Linked DNA regions of Homo sapiens: region 1 is linked to region 2. Evidence: fine-mapped expression QTL. Tissue or cell type: whole blood. Region 2 holds a variant in brackets; the other region holds the start of a gene. All regions are shown on one strand. Distances are from middle to middle. Region 1 holds the start of EDN1 (endothelin 1). Region 2 overlaps LOC124901260 (a long non-coding RNA gene).

The links. PIP is the estimated chance that this variant, and not a neighbour inherited with it, causes the effect.
Region 1: EDN1 starts here. The variant in region 2 is fine-mapped to the expression of EDN1 in whole blood (TOPMed, PIP above 0.99).

What each region holds. Positions count from the first base shown.
Region 1 is chr6:12,285,675-12,294,008 of GRCh38, reverse strand. It overlaps EDN1 (endothelin 1), which reads right to left and starts at 3,648. Exons shown (of 5, transcript NM_001955.5): 1 at 3,316-3,648; 2 at 1,500-1,668; 3 at 1-68. The coding sequence starts at 3,379. RefSeq lists enhancers at 3,716-3,785, 3,796-3,895, 5,039-5,539, 5,540-6,040.
Region 2 is chr6:12,238,100-12,246,433 of GRCh38, reverse strand. LOC124901260 (a long non-coding RNA gene) reads left to right here. Exons shown (of 3, transcript XR_007059454.1): 3 at 4,940-4,987. It also overlaps a transcript of EDN1 not described here. Among named protein-coding and RNA genes, the nearest start is that of EDN1, 48 kb to the left of the region's middle. The variant T/C (reference allele first, on the strand shown) is at 3,605.

The sequences.
Region 1 (8,334 bases), 48 kb before region 2:
TTGTGGGAAGTAAATTCTCCAAGGCTCTCTTGGACCTAGGGCTTCCAAGTCCATACGGAACAACGTGCCTATTATCCAAAGAGAGAAAGAAACTATATTAGTGTAATTAATAGTCTTTAAAATGACACATGGACACACCTATTCCACTGGGCACACAAGGAGCTCATCACATAGCACTTGGGAGCATCATTTCAGAGGGTAAAGTGTAACAACAGCCAGGAACACCTGTGCATCAATGGCCCTGACTGTATGTATCCAGGCAGGAGAAAACAAGTTTTTCTAATTCAGTGGAATTCCATTTCAACTCTTCACAAAGTTCAGTTTCTTCTTGACACAAGCAACATTGCTTTTTTGTCAAAAATTAGGACATCTCTGCTTGGCATCTGCTTTATATTTTCTTCCTTTTCTAATGGTCTATTTAGTTAACTATTTGTGGGTACACAGTGGGAAGAGGTTTCAATGCAAAACCATGACTCACAGGATTTTTAAAACTTATTTTCAACTCAAACCACGGAGGATACTGCTAAAAGTGCCACCGTCACCCCACCGACCCCAGTGGTTGGGGGAGGAGGAGGCACATGTTCACACATTTCTCCTGCCAGTCGGTGGTACCATATGGTTGTGGAAGGACTCATAGCCAGAGGGCTCTCCAATAATTTCCAATGTGTCCATTTTCATTCTCATCTAAGAAATAAAGTCCTCCCTTTGGAAGTATCACCTTAGTAATTATTAGGCTCCTTGTGGTTTTTGGTGTGGTTTGATATTGTTTGGATTTTGGTCCTCCTTTGTCATAACGGTACATTGTATGCATAGTAAATGTGTGCTTGTTTATGACTGCTTCCGACAGATGATGAACTAGTGTCCAGGGCAGAAGGAGGAAATCTGCTTTTCTTCTCTGTAGGTGAAAGAGAAGCCTATGGACAGTATTTCTATTTCAGTTCTGAAATGGGCATTTCTAAAGGGAAAATATAGCAGCAAAGGAAATCCGGGCTCCAGTTCTAGCTCTGCTACAAACTCACTCCTGCACAAATGGCTTCAACACTTTGAGCCTAGGTTTTTCTGTAAGTAAAATTAAGTGATTCTAACCCTCTATATCATCACTTCTGCCTCTCAGTCTCCACCCTCCCATGAGAAGCACAGGTTGCACTAACCCACATCTGACCTCGGCAATTATTCCCGAAACCCCATCAGATGCCACTGTGAGAGTGTCCCCCTGAGGCCCTCTCACTGAAAGTTCCTCATTTGAAACGTGCAGTGGCCTCCTGCTTGTCCCATCATGAGTAGCCTGAGCTACGGGGCCTCAGAAGACCCTCCCCTTGGTTGCTAAGAACGAAGCTGTCGTTATTTTCAGGAATAGAGGGAAACTGTCCCCACTGAGGCACTTGGATGGTGTTAGAAGGACTACCTTCAGAGTCCCTAGAAAAGAAACTCTAAAACTGGGCTCCAGTGGAGCCAGCGCTAATGAATGACTAGGGTTACAATGCCCTCTAGAGACTTACTCGGGAGTGTTGACCCAAATGATGTCCAGGTGGCAGAAGTAGACACACTCTTTATCCATCAGGGACGAGCAGGAGCAGCGCTTGGACCGGCGGAGCCGCCAGGGTGGACTGGGAGTGGGTTTCTCCCCGCCGTTCTCACCCACCGCGCTGAGCTCAGCGCCTAAGACTGCTGGGGAGAGAAAGAGCAGGTCAGTGGGGGATGTCTCCTCAAACGCCGAGAGACATGCTGGATCACAGTAGAGTCAGAGCTAGCAGAGCAGATAAAAGCAGATGAAGCACACAGCCTGCCATCAGCAAGAAACACAGAAAAAAGGGCTCTTTATTTTTTTCCCTCCTTAACATGAGTTCACCTTTTGCCTCCCCCTCATGCCCTTGGCTTATCCACCTTCAGGGAGATTACACAAATGCAGAGGAGATAAACACCTGAAAAGGGACTTCCCCCACCCCTCTTGAAGCAGGCTCAGGGAAATGCTGTGGAATGCTGCCTGTTGAAAATCCGGCTGGCTTCTACAAGGAACTTGGTAGGACAGCACTATCCACTGAAGCTTACTTAACATTGGCACATGACTAAAGACAAGAAATCACAGTTATTCCTAGCTTTGGGGCCACTTCCCCATTCAGGATGACCCTCTCTTTAGGGGGTACCCATCCACTTCACATGCTGTGTAGGGCACAGGGTACCCCAGATGATGTATATCTTTCAAAATTAGGTGGGGAAAATGATTGGAGAGAGAAATTAACTATTCAATATTCAATTCAGGAGGGTAACTCCATAGAAACCAGTGACCTAAGGTGGGGCTGAGAAGCAGGTCAGGGGACTGAAGGTAGGCTGGGGGGATTTTGAATTCCGAATCCCTGGGCATCAGGCTTGTGTGGGATCCACTGCCTCCCCCTTCTCCACTACTGCCTTGCCTCTTCCTCCTAACAATTTAGCCATGCAGCTTATCTGCCCAATTTTGTACATTTCAAATGATCAGACACATTCCAGGATTTTCATTCCCTTGACATCCTTTCTCTTTAGTCAGGGTCACGAAAAGACAAAAAAAGTGCACTGACCCTAAAAACGGGGGGGACCCGGGCAGATGCACACGCACTGCCTAAATCCTTCGGCAGCCAAGAATTATCCTAGCTCCCCTCCCAGCACAGGTGAATAAAGCTGAAAAGAGAGCTCACACTGTTTTGGGTGCCAAAAACCTGCCAAAAGAAACCTAAAGTCAATGATGACAAATTTTAAAGAAAACATCTGCTTCACCCAGAAACCGCCTGCGGGGGGTGGTGGCGGGGGGGGGGGGAGGCGGTAGTTAGTCAACAGACTTTTGCTCTGCAGGTGATTTTACTGAACATACATTGCTTGAACGACTGGATACAATTCCTTGGCTTCAAGCTGGAATGCTTAAATATTTTACACGTTAACACACTATTAAAATAGTGTTTAAATAAGATTTAAGTTCCTATATGGCCTGTGTACCTGTATAAACACATATATTACAAACATACATTTGACTAAATTGTATATGTCCATACTCTTCTCATTTTTTAAAAGCCAAGGAAACACATAATGGAATAATAATAATAAAACGATAAGTTATTTTAATGTCATGTTATAGTCAATTGCACCTAATTGTATTCAATAGAGGAATTTTACATTTTACACTAGAAGACTTAAAGTAGCTTTCAGCAATAATTCTCAGACACTTGCTCTCTAAGCTGCAGTCATAAAAAGAACGGGGAAAAATAGAAGCAAGAAAAGCATGAAGGTGGATAAGAACACACTAACTTGTAATTCCGAGACTTACAAGTCAACGAGCGTGCCTACCTGTTTCTGGAGCTCCTTGGCAAGCCACAAACAGCAGAGAGAAAATCATGAGCAAATAATCCATTCTGAAAAAAAGGGATCAAAAACCTCCCGTTCAAACTGAACCCAAAGGAAAACGAAGAAAAACAGCTTCAGGTCCCTCAAAGCGCTGCGGGTTCCTCAGATCTCAAAGCGATCCTTCAGCCCAAGTGCCCTTTTAACGGGGAGAAAAGGCAGCGCCTGCCAGGAGAGAAGGCAGCGAGCGGAGCGTCTGCAGGCGCACGCGGCGGTGGAGAGCTGGGACTGCAGGAGGCGCAGGACCCGTTCGCCTGGCGCAGATGCAGAGGCGCGTCTGACTTGGACAGCTCTCTGCCGGCTTTTTATATTGAACCCCTATTAGAGTGGGGGTAAACAGCTCCGACTTTATTCCAGCCCCAGACAATGTTATTGTGTTATTAGTCACCAACAGGCAACGTGCAGCCGGAGATAAGGCCAGGCCCGAAAGGAAATCACTGCTAACTTCAGAGGCAGACGCCCGCCGTCTGACAATTCGGGGGCAGGGCTAAGAAAAAGAAAATACCCATTAGAGACCTTTGCTAAACCTGCCCGTGCAGTGCTGGAGTCCGCTTCCCCTTTGCAAGCTGCCAGCCCCGGAGTTCAAGAATCAGAAGAGGGGACTCCAGAAAAAAAGTCATACCATTGGTATGAAAAGTATGAGCCACAGTTTAAATAGATTGTATTGTTGTGTGCGGGGAATTTTTTTTAATTGTTGCTCGCTTCATTTTCCTTTTATGTCTCTCCGATTCTAGTCTCAGTCAAACAAGGGAATGCTCTCCCTCGTCACTGCCCCACTACTGGGGGTCAGACTATTTTGGCAGATCAACGTACTTTTCTCTTCAAGCCCCTTCCTGCGGGTCTTTTTTGCTGAAGTTCTTTGCATCTATCGGAGAAAGATCCGTGAGGGATTGGCAAGAAAGGGAGCTTAAAAATAACATCAGAGCTCGTTTAGGCACATGCCCAGTCTTTTCCCTATCACTGATGAGAAGCCCCGATAAGTTCTTTTGTGTGTCCACACTTCCCCTGCGGAGGAGGCTGATAAACTGATTGAAAAGCAAAGGTGTTTTTCACACAGAACTTAAATCTTAAGATTGGTCGGTGCCACCAATCTTAAGACATGGCGGGAGAAGAACACCAGGGGGAGATGAAGAGCTACAGGGGCTGATGTTTTACTAGGACAAAAAGGAAAACCCTTCTAAATGGCAGAAAAAAACGCAACCTGGCTTGGGGGCCGAGGAGGGTCAAGGAATGTTGCCTAACATAGGAAGGAGGAATGCACCTCAGAATATTCTATTTATTCCCCGCACAAGCAGGGACATATTTTCTGGGACTCTTTTTTTTGGGGGGGTGTCTTCATTTAGGGCAAAAAGGTGTTCTTGTACAAGGTTAAGTGAATATGCAAGGAAGGTGGTGCTGAGAAGGAAATGCCATTCGAACAAGGAATCAGATAATACTTCACATTTAATAATGTGTTTACATTTTCAAAACAATTTCCTGTCTATCTAACCTTGAAATCCCCCCCTGAAGTACACACAGGGCAGTTACTGTACAGGTGACATCATGCCTTAATAAAGAAAGCAAAAGGTGCATGGAACACATTGGCTTTTTCCGCTAGTCCCATTTTTCAGGTTAGACAACTGAGCACCCAGAATTTTTGTTTGTTCTCCACCAAAGCGCTCACAGTGGCCCAGTAAGACCTATGGGATAAATTTAGAGTCTCTTCCCAGGGGATGCCATCAAATACACACTTTGTCCATCTCCTCTTTTTGTTTTACTCCAGTTTTTCTGGGGATGGAGGGTGGAATTCAAGCACGGATGAATTTCCAAGACTGGCACAACACACATGCTGGGAAACCTTTTTTCCCTCCTCCTTCTAAAATCAAAAGGACAGTTTTTATCCCAACAGCAAAGCCGTGGGTTTGGACAGACTCAGATCCCCAGACCTCCCTCGAAGTCACAGCTGGGGGAACAGGGACAGTGGCAGCGACAGGTCCATAATGACATGCATCCTCTAAAAGAGCCACTGAAGCAAGAGTTGGAGATGGGAGAGAGAGAGGCAAGAACTCTCCCTCCCACACCCACACCCACACCCACACCCAGAGATGCCTCCACCCTATCCCCAGGGCCTCTGCCGGGGCCCCTGGCCTCCGCTGTGCGCTTACCTCAGCCTAGCCCCGGGGCCCAGGGAGGCCACAGCTCCCGGAGGACAGGCGGCACTGAGCCGGAAGCCAGCGCTGCCGCCTGTGCCAGGCAAGGGTGCCCTGACCTCCCTCTCCAAAGCCGACCTTGGGAGAGGAGAGGAGAGCTGATGTCACATTCACAGGTTCCAAGCAGCGCCTCCCCCCCAACACTCCCGCGGAAGAAAGGTGGCCTGGGAAATATGTCTTGGCAGGGACTCCCCCTACTTTTTTTTTTTTAACCTTTTGGCAACTTTGACCAAACACTGACAACAGTCAGGACCAACATGTTCTCAAGGCCCCTACCCGGAAACCACCGCCCATGCCCTCCCCAATATTCTCAGGTCCAGCCTGGGTTCTACTTCAGCTGGAGTCCCTTCTCCCACCCCACTCCACGCCACCCCACCTTGCTGAGGCTGCCCCTGCAGGTTCCAGCAACGCCCAGCCTTCAGGTGGAGAAGTGGGGCAAAATGAAACTGCCCAAGCGCCTCCAACAGCACTCACCACGCCCCGTCTGTGTCATCCCGTGAATATGAATTGGAAACACAAAACGTGGCCAGCCATCCGCCCACACCTGGCCCTTCTCGAGCTCGGGGAAAGTAAATAGTAAGGAAGAATGCAGGATTTCAGACCTGGAAGGGCCCCACCGTGCCAAATATAATGGTGCCCCTGTCTCTTTGAATCCTGAATTTGCAAGACGTGTGCCTGCGCGCGCGCGCGCGCGCCTGTGTGTGTGTGTGTGTGTGTGTGTGTGTGTGTGTGTGTGTGAGAGAGAGAGAGAGAGAGAGAGAGGGAGAGAGAGAGAGATAGGAGAAGAGAAGAGAGAGAGAGAATTTCCGTGTCTTTTTCTTTGTGTGTCAGGGGCGAGGGGTGGCACCTGCCTTCTCTGTCCATCTCTCCATTTCTCCCTCTGGCAGCAGCTCCCTTTTCCTCCTGTAGGGGCAGAGGGAAGCCCCATTCAAGCCCACAGAAGGCAGCTAGGGCACTGCCAGGCAGCCTCCCAGCAAGACATTTTCCCAAGAATCAAGAAATGAGGGGAGAAGGAGAACCCCAACAAACCAGTTTTACAAGCTTGATGCCCCCACCCCTCCTCCACTTAAGGCACTGCTAGACAGAGATGCGGGGAGAAGAACTAGAGGTGAAAAGAGCTGGACAAAGGAGTGAATATGAAGGATAGCTTCATAGCCCCACCCCACCCCTCAGAGGACTGCAGGGGGAAAATGCTCCTTTTGGCCACAGTCACTCTCAGAAAGGGAAGGGAAGGAAGGGAGAGATGTAAAGAGGAGGATTTTTTTTTTTCCCCAATAGAAAGTTTGCTGTGGCTGTTCTTGCCTTTTTTTTTTTTCTCAATTTTAATTTTTTTGGGGACAGGGTCTCACTCTGTCTCCAAGGCTGGAGTGCAGTGGTGCAGTTATAGCTCACTGCAGCCTCAACCTCCTGGGCTCAAGTGACACTCCTACTTCAGCCTCCTGAGTAGCTGGGACAACAGGCTCAAGCCACCATGCCCAGCTAAGTTTTAAAATTTTTTCGTAGAGATAGGGATCTCACTATGTTGCCTAGGCTGGTCTTGAAATCCTGGCCTCAAGCAATCCTCTTACCTTGGCCTCCCACAGTGCTGTGATTACAGGCGTGAGCCACCACTCCTGGCCTATTCTTGCTTTTGAGGCTACACTTGAATGCTGGAAAGTATTTGATAAAACTATTTTTTATGTATTTCTTTCTGTATCTCTGTATTAATAGATATCTATAAATAAAACATGCTGAGCCCCCAATACAGATACTACACAGTAGCAAATTGTACTGTTTTTAGCATTCTCCAGCTTTCCTTTCTCAACTTTTGCGTAATAAAATTTGTAACTTTGCCAAGCCAATAAATTTGGTATGAGATGTTGCATTTAGCTCAGCAAAGCTAACAGTCGTTAAGTTGCTTGAAAATCACACAAAGAATGAGGAAGTATTTTATCATAGGCAAAGTGAAGCTATCCACACCACTAGGCCTGATTTAGTCTTGGGTTGGTAACTATTATACATTTCTACTCTATGTAGCACTTTTGTGAAAAAATGTGTAATATAGTTATTAGGCCTGTGACACATCACACATCTCCAGGAGCTATGAAGAAACACAGCTTCTCCCTATAGTCCAAAAAATAATGGTTGATTTAGCACAGGAAATATGATGGTCAATGTAAATTCATCCTGTACATTTTAAAAACATACAACATATGCATCTCTATTTCTTGGACACTCATCCATAGGATAATCATAGATAGCAAGTGTTTATTTAAAAGAGTATTTCCAATTCTCTAATCTAGCATTTCCCAAAGTTCAGTTATTCATTAAACTGCTTCACAATTTTTACCATATTTGGGTGCCACCTGTACATTTTTACTTAATATTTTCCTTTTAACTGACTTGTTTCTTTTACATGAATAATTTTAAGAAAATTTTATATCATTACTATCTTAAGCAATAATGTACATGAAATTATGGTTGGTATGCTTAAATAATCCATATGAAATCATGGTTGGTATGGTTAAAAAAACTACATGAAATCATAGTTTAATACATGCTAAACATTTAATCATTATACATTCATTAAGCTATTAAAAATAAAAATGTTTGGCTGGGCATGGTGGCTCACACTTGTAATCCCGAGGCCGAGGCAAGTGGATCACCTGAGGTCAGGAGTTCGAGACCACCCTGACCAACATGGAGAAATCCCATGTCTACTAAAAATTCAAAATTAGCCAGGCATGGTGGCGCATGCCTGTAATCCCAGCTACTCAAGAGGCTGAGGCAGGAGAAT
Region 2 (8,334 bases):
CTCCTAGGCAAATTGCTGTCTGGGAAAATGGTTTTTCACCCAGGCAAGTTTTCTCAAATGTTAAGAAGTGATTGCCTCTGAGCTATGTTAAGAAGTGATTGCATCTGAGCTGCATGTGGTCTTGTTATCTCTTGGGCCCTAAGAGGCGGGCTGTGGAAGGAAGCCTCTCAGATGCTGCCCCTTGCCCACCAGGTGGCTTGAGTCAGGCAAACCACTCAGAAACACTTCCCTGCACCTTCCATTTAAATCGTGTGCTACAATCTAAAGGGCAGAGGAGGACATGATGGAAATTATTAAAGGAAGAGGCTGAGAGCATTTTCAAGAGCCATATGAGTAGGAAGAGGGAGGAAAGCAGCTGTTCTTCTCTACACACCATAGAGGTATATGCAATTTCTTTAAGGATCTTCTCTGCCTTTGTGGGGTAAAATATGGGTCATGTAAATACAACATTGTTATGGCAATTACTCACTGACGACACACAGAGGAGATTCTGTTACCTATAAACAGCTAGTAAATATGGGCATGACATTTTAAACAGTTTTCTGCTTTAACAAGACAAGAGGATGATACTTCCCATCTCTTTAGCTGATTGTCCCTCCCCACCCACAGCCTCTTTCCCTTCAACACTTTCTGCCTAAATCTCCAAATAATCACCCCACTCACTCACACCAGGCCAGTGGCTGGCAGGCTCCTTGGCCAAGTTTACTATCTGGTTCCAAAGGGGAAGGAAAAATGCATTTGTTCTTTCAGAATGAGAGCTCCCAGAACATCAGGGGTGGAGGGCTTGGTCATCTGAGGGTGTTTCTATAATCTGGAATCCTAAATTTAGCAAGGGACATAGCCCAGGCTAAGAGAATGTCTTCCTTCCTATGAACTTCCACCCATCAGCAGAAGTGGAAGCTGGAAAAGCTCACAGAGGTCACTCTTTCCCCCCAGGTTTTCAGTTACTTGGAACACTCCACTTTAGGGATTTCCAAAGTCACTGGGCTCATTGGAATATTCTCTTTTTATTGACATGAAACGTGTTTGCTGAGTCTGGCTGGCCAAGTGATTCCACAGGGTGAAAAAGAAAAGGCATTGAAATATTCATCAGGAGAGCTACCCAGTTCCACCGCCAGTTTCCTAGGCAATGGTGGGTGAATCTAGTCATTTTTTTCTCAGTTTCCTCATCTCTAAAACAGAGATGATATCAAGTCCTATGTACCCATATCACAGAGACATGTTAAAATAAAATAATACGTGATAAATGTTTAGGAAAAAAGCTGCTGAAAATGCATTCAAAGTGGAGTTTGTAGCCACTTATTATAATTATTGCCACTTCTTACATTCTGAAATATTTTCAGGGTAGAATTTTTTAAAAGACATTTTGTGACTTCTTTACACTAATAATTATGGGTGATATTGATAAGACAGTTCTCGTACATTGATCTTAAACTCAGTTATCACAATCTTTTGTAACATTTTGCTCTTGGCTTATTTGTTCCTGATAGGGTAGAAGTTGCAGGAAAAGTTGATTAATTAAAAGCCATATTGTTGTAAATTTCATCTGTGTGGGGTCAATGAGTCTTGTAATTTAATGTTAGAATACCCTAGAGCAGCGGCTCTCAAAGTGTGGTCTGTGGACCCCTGGGCTTCTCTAAGATCCTTTTGCAGGAGCATAAGATCAAAACTATTTTTTAAATAATATTAAGACGTTATTTGCCTTCTTTACCATGTTGACATTTGTAGTAATTGTGAGCATGAAGCACTTACAGTATACTCTAATACTTACACACTTGCTATGAGTTGTAGGCTGAAATAGCCTATTTTTGCATGGAAGCATTTTTTCCCTAAAAGACAACTGACTGCAAACTATTGTTATTCAGCCTTGGCTATTTGACAAACTTTTTCTTGAGACTAAATAGAGAGCCTGTCACTTCAAGGAAAATAACAAACATTATTCGTTGCTGAAAATAACATTTGAACCTTCAAGCAAAACTTTGAATTTTGGTAAACTTGTACCTGCTTGTGTAAACCAGACAGCTTCCCAATGCCTCAAAGACTTTTCTAATGAGATCAGTGATAGTAACAAATGTGATTTTTCAAAATATTGTATAGCCAACATTTGAAAGGTCAAATATTCACTCAATGAATTAATATTTTCCAAATGATTGATGCATTACCTGGCAAAATCATGCATGGGCAAAAGATCCATAGGAAAATATAATTAATTTTATTAAAATTAGTTAATTTATTTAATTTGTATTGAGTTTATTATTGCTTTAAACAAATAAATATTTTAAATGTTTTTAAAATATTTCTTTGATATAGTAAATATATTCTTTGATATAGTAAATGTAACCCACACAAATGAAAGCTTCCTGGGATCCTCAATACTTTTTAGAGGATAAATGAATTCTGAGAACAAAATCTATCAGAATGGCTGTGCTACAAGTCTTAACTTATAGTCTGCAGTGAGATAACATCTCTAATATAAAAAAAGAGAAAGTTTCCATCACGAGTAACTAAATACTTTCTCAATTGACAAATAAAAAAAGAATATTTGTATAAATTAGGTTATATCCAACATAAGCTTTTCTAAAGTAATTTTATTTATTTTCAAATCAGAATGTTATATGTTAGTGAATTAAATTCGAATCACTATGGTACAGTTTACTCATCCACATGACAAATACATTAATTTCTTGCTAACTATAGGCTTTTGGGGATATAACTATAGATGAAATGTAATCTGCCTTCAAGTAGCTCATAGTTTATAAAACCATCAGAAAAGGAAATTCTTCTCACATTCATTTTATGTATGTATGTATTAATTCAGCATTCATGTATTTGTTTTGTCCCCTCTGAGCCAGGCACCAGTATAGACATTGGGTTGAAAGACACAGGACTTGTTAACCATGCTTGGAACTCACAGTCCTGAGTACAGATAGGAATACAGTTGACCCTTGAATAACATGGGTTGAACTGTGCAGATCCACTTGCACAAGGATTTTCATTAATAATAGTTACCCCCAGTGTGCCTGCCTCTCCTGCCTCCCTCCCACCTCCTCCACCTCTTCCACCTCTGCCGCCCCTGAGACATCAAGACCAGCCCCTCCTCCTCCTCCTCTCCTCCTCCTCCTCCTCCTCTCCTCCTCCTCCTCCTCTTTACTCAATGTGAGGACATCACGGATGAAGCCCTTTAAGATGATCCACTTCCACTTACTGAATAGCAAATATATTTTCTCTTCTTTATGATTTTTTAAATAACATTTTCTTTTCTTAACTTACTTTATCATAAGAATACAGTATATAATACATATAACATACAAAATGGGTGTTAATTGGCTGTTTATGTTATCACTAAGGTTTCTGGTCAACAGCGGGTTATTACTAGTTAAGTTTTTGGGGAATCAAAAGTTATCTGTGGATTTTTGACTGCAAGGAGAGTTGGTGCCCCCATCCCTGGAGCTGCCTAAGAGTCAACTGTAATTATACAAATGAATACTCTAGCATAATTCTAAGTGCTCAGGAGGGTAGGTACAAAACTCCTTGAGTGATATCACAGAGACCTGAACCCAGCCTGGAGAACAGAAACAGCCTTCATGAGAATCATAATGGTTAA[T/C]AGAGAGCATTCCAACTGGAAGAAATATTATATACAGGCCATGAGGAGGGCTGGAGAAACAGAAAGGTCAGTGTAGTCAAAGCATGTTCAGCCAAGGAGGAGCCAGAGGGACCTGGCAAGGTGAGCAGCGATCCAAAGCCACCTACCCAGGGAGCAGCAAGGCTGAGATCCAAACAAGGATCTACCTCATCCCAGTGTGTAACTAGCACCTCACTATCTCCCCTCAAAAAATAAATTACGCCACATACCATGGGATATACTTTATAAACACATTTGCATGTGCCACTCACAGCAACCTTATAAGGTAGGTCCATATAGAGACCTATTTTATAGAGGAAATGACTGAGGCACAGAGAGGTAAAATAACTTTCCCAGGGCTACACAGTCACAAAGTAGCAGAGGCAGAATTGGAGCTCAAGCAGTTGGCTTGAGAGGTCACACTCTTCAGAGGTCACTACTCACTCCACCACCTTCTAGTCCACACAATTACTGGGTGGTAGACCTGGTCCTTGCAATCAGGCGAGTCAAATCTCTCTACCACTTTTCAGCATGACCATTCTCATTCCCTGCGTTAGAAATTAGCCTAGAGAGAACTGGTTGTAAAATCACACTGACTGTTGGGCGACACCCTCAAATCCCTAGAGACTGCACACCTCCAGAAAGCCTTTGGTATCGATGGTCAAGGAATTCCCAGGCTGCTTCCTGGGTCTCACCTGAAGTGAAACAGCTTTGCAGCAAAGAGGAATATGCTGTTGAGGAAATTCTTTCAAAGCTGAATCTCTTCCTTCCTCATTCCAGATAAATTGCATTAATGCATAGCCTATTACCTAACGGGGTTATGGTTTAACTTCCTTCCCCCAAGCCTTTTATGGGAATGCAGTAAAGATGGGTGCAGCCTGCACAGCATGGGCTTGACTCTTTCAAAAGAAATTCCCACCATCACACCCTTGTTCTCCTTGGTTTATTGAGTTTAAATTTGTAGGAGGCAAGTATGTTGATGCAATTTGCAAAAGTTACTGAAGATAAACCACCTACTAGAGAATGCAAGAGACTGGAAACAATGATTGAGTCTCCAAAAAAAGTGTTACTCATAGGATCATCTTCTATGAACATGAGTAAGAGAAGAAAACCATAAGCTGGTTTCAATTCTAAATACATTTAATTTCCAAAAGCAAAGGTGAGCAATTATGTATTCCACTTACCATAGAGCAATGGGCCACCTCATCAGACAAAAACACAGACCCGTACTTTTTTTGCAAATAACTTTTATGAAGCTAGTGCTGGGCCTATAAAAACCCAGTTGTACTAATACCTCCCTCTTTTCCTCTCCTTGAGCCATCTCTCCCACCAAGATCTCCAAAGATGCCTGCTTATAAAAGTGTGTCCTTCCCAGCACTTTGGGAGGCTGAGGCGGGCAGATCACCTGAGGTCAGGAGTTCAAGACCAGCCTGGCCAACATGGAGAAACCAAAACCCGGTCTCTACTAAAAATACAAAAATTAGCCGGGTGTGGGGTGCACACCTGTAATAACAGCTACTCAGGAGGCTGAGGCAGGAGAATCGCTTGAACCCAGGAGGCAGAGGTTGCGGTGAGCCAAGATCACACCACTGTACTCCAGCCTGAGTGACAGAGTGAGACTCCATCTCAATAAAAAAAAAAAAAAGAAAGAAAGAAAGAAAAGAAAAAAAAGTGCATCCTAAGGTTCCCACAGTGTAAATGTCTTCCAAGAGCAGTAAGGATTGGGTTCAGCTGAGAGTGACTGAAAATTCAAAATCTAAGTGGCTTTAAGGGAATAAAAATTTGCACACTCATCTGAATGTAAATGATCCAGGGCTGGCATAATGGCTCCACCATGCTTAGAAGGTCCAGTGCTTTCTACCTTGATGTTCCATCTCCCTCAGCACACAGCAGGATCAACACCAGCCATCACATCTGTGTTCCAGGCAGCAGGATGCAAAAAAGAGACAAGATAAAGCCACATGATCTCCCATTAAAGACAATTCCTGGGAGTTGTACACCACTGCTCTTTATAGTCCTTGGTTCTTTCAGGTTCACAGAACCTAAGGGATAATAGATATTGAAAGACAGCTATGTCTCCCCTTTGGCCACCCATGTATCTCAGTGTACCCTTATTTCCATGTTTGAAATGTACTCAACCCCTGTACTCCCAGATAAAGAATCCCAGAGTTCCACCAAATTCATGCATCTGGTTCTAAGTCCAGGATTTTCAGGTACTATTCCATGCTCTTTATCAGGTCTGAGTGTAACTACTCATTTTCAGGGGCCCTACAAAATAGAAATGTAAGTTACCTAATACAACACACCTACAAGTCCAATAAGAACAGGACAAACTTTATATAAACAAACATTTCTCCCACTCAGAAAAATTAAAAACTGAGAATCACATAATAGTTCCTTATCTCTAAATATTATCAGATCCCACTGGGCAGAAAGAGAAAACAAAATCATGAGAGTCAGCTGGACTCTCACCTGCTCACTGGGCAAAACTTCTTCATTCACTGCCGCCTGTGGGTTTTCTCTCCCTTTAGGAAATGTTTCCCAGCTCATAATACTCCCAAGTGCGCGCCTTTCTTAAAGCCTTCACAGCTTTCACAGCCTTCCTGCTGGCTGTCTGGGAAAGGTGGTCACCTTAGGTATTGAATGGTCAAAGGCTTTTGCAGTCTAGACTGCTGGTCTCTTTGTCAATACAAAATTTCATGGCATCTGGCCTACCTGAATTCTACCAATTCTGCCTATAAGCAATCAGAATGATGATGTCTGAACATGGATTTTATCCATAATACCTTTGCTTTTATTTTACTTTATAACCTCTGTTCCACCAAATCCTCTCTCTCACTCAACCTACACTCCTTTTATCATGCTATTCTATTTTCTTTCTTTTTCCTTTTCTGTTTTTGTTTTTTGTTTTCTGTTTTTGAGACACCCAGGCTGAAGTGCCATGTTGCAATCTCAGATCACTACAACCTCTGCCTTCTGGGCTCAAGTGATTCTCCTGCCTTAGCCTCCTGAATAGCTGGGACCACAGGCACACACCACCATGCCCAGCTAATTTTTGTATTTTTTGTAGAGACCAGGTCTCCCTATGTTGCCCAAGCTGATCTCAAACTCCTGGGCTCAAGCAATTCTCCTGCCTCAGCCTCCCAAAGTGCTGGGATTAGAGGTGCGAGTCACTGCACCAGGCCTGTTCCCTCTATTTTCAACAGAGGATTTTTACTTTATGGTCCAAAATGGTTCTTCTAGCTTAAGCCATCATATTTAAGTTATTGCAGGTAGGGATGAGAAAAGAGGCAGGAGAAGGGCCTACCCCTACCCCTAAAAGATAGATCCTGGAGCCTTACACATTTCTTTTGTTTATATCCATTGACCAAAGTGTAGTCACTTGGCCGTATCTGCTGGAAGGCGGTCAAGAAAATGTAATTTCTTTTAGGTGGCCATGACCTAGCTAGCATTTTGAGGCTTTATTATAGAGTCAGAAAAAGGAACAAGAACATCCAAGTATAATTAGCAATCCTATTATGTTAACATGTGTATTTTTAAATGGGTTTATGGAGACAGACAATTACTATGGAGAGTGTAATATACATCACAGCCAGAAAGGAACACGAATGATTGAGGCAACATTCTCCAAGCAATGCTGCTTATCTCATTTGCCCTGTGACAACTCTGGGCCCAGAATTGTCACAGAACCCAGAACTGAGGTTCTTCAGTCAACTTGTAATGAGGCCCACTGTGTGCCAGGAACTGGGTATTCACAGGACTTGCTGAAAGTCTGCCTAATTTATACTGAAGAAGTTGCTATAAGTTGGAATTTTATTCCAATAACTAAAAGATCCATTGAGAAGAGCTAAACTCACCCAACTGATATAACACATGCAGTTTTTCAAACAATTGGCGTCAGTGCTGTATATATTTATACACCAATCCAGAAATAATCTACCGTATGGTTCTCATGTAATTTCTAATTCATCTTCACTGGGAAATTGGGATGCCTTTGGTCAAGAGGAGCTAAAGGAAATGCTTGGTTGCACAGCCTGCCTGGGTCCTATTCTTTCACTTTCCTCTTTGATTTTGATTTTGTGGCTACAATGGTGGTTTTCTTGCATCAGCTTACAAATTGACTGCAAGGGAAGAATTCTCCATCTCTCTTCCTACGATAACTAGATGTCCATGCTTCAACCACAGCTGCATCAGCCGTGGTTCTAAGCGAGGACAGCTGGCAGTCTAAGGGTTGGATTGGTTAACCTTGGAAAGTGCTTCCCCTCCGCCTCCATACATTTCACAGCTGGTTCTCTGACAAATGCGCTCTGACCAACCTCCTCATTGCATAGAGGTCACTGAGTCTGTGGCTCTTCCTGTCCTATGGTGCCTAATATCCCCCTCTTCTGCAGCCACTTGAGTGGGAGTAGAGTGGGCAGGGGAGACCTTCACTTTCCCCATGACGCAGGACTTGAGAAATGACTCCACTGGGACAGGGACTGGCCTTATCATGGCACAAATGTGCTATCACACCCCAGAGGAACGCCTACATCCCCTCAAGCCCAAACTCCCACGAAAACCAAATCACAAAGAAATAGAAGCACGGACTTAAATTGGTTTTCTGCTGCATTTTGGGTTTCCCTTTTTTTTTTTTTTTTTTTGAGATAGAGTCTTGCCCTGTCACCCAGGCTGGAGTGCAGTGGCGCCATCTCAACTCACTGCAACTTCTGCCT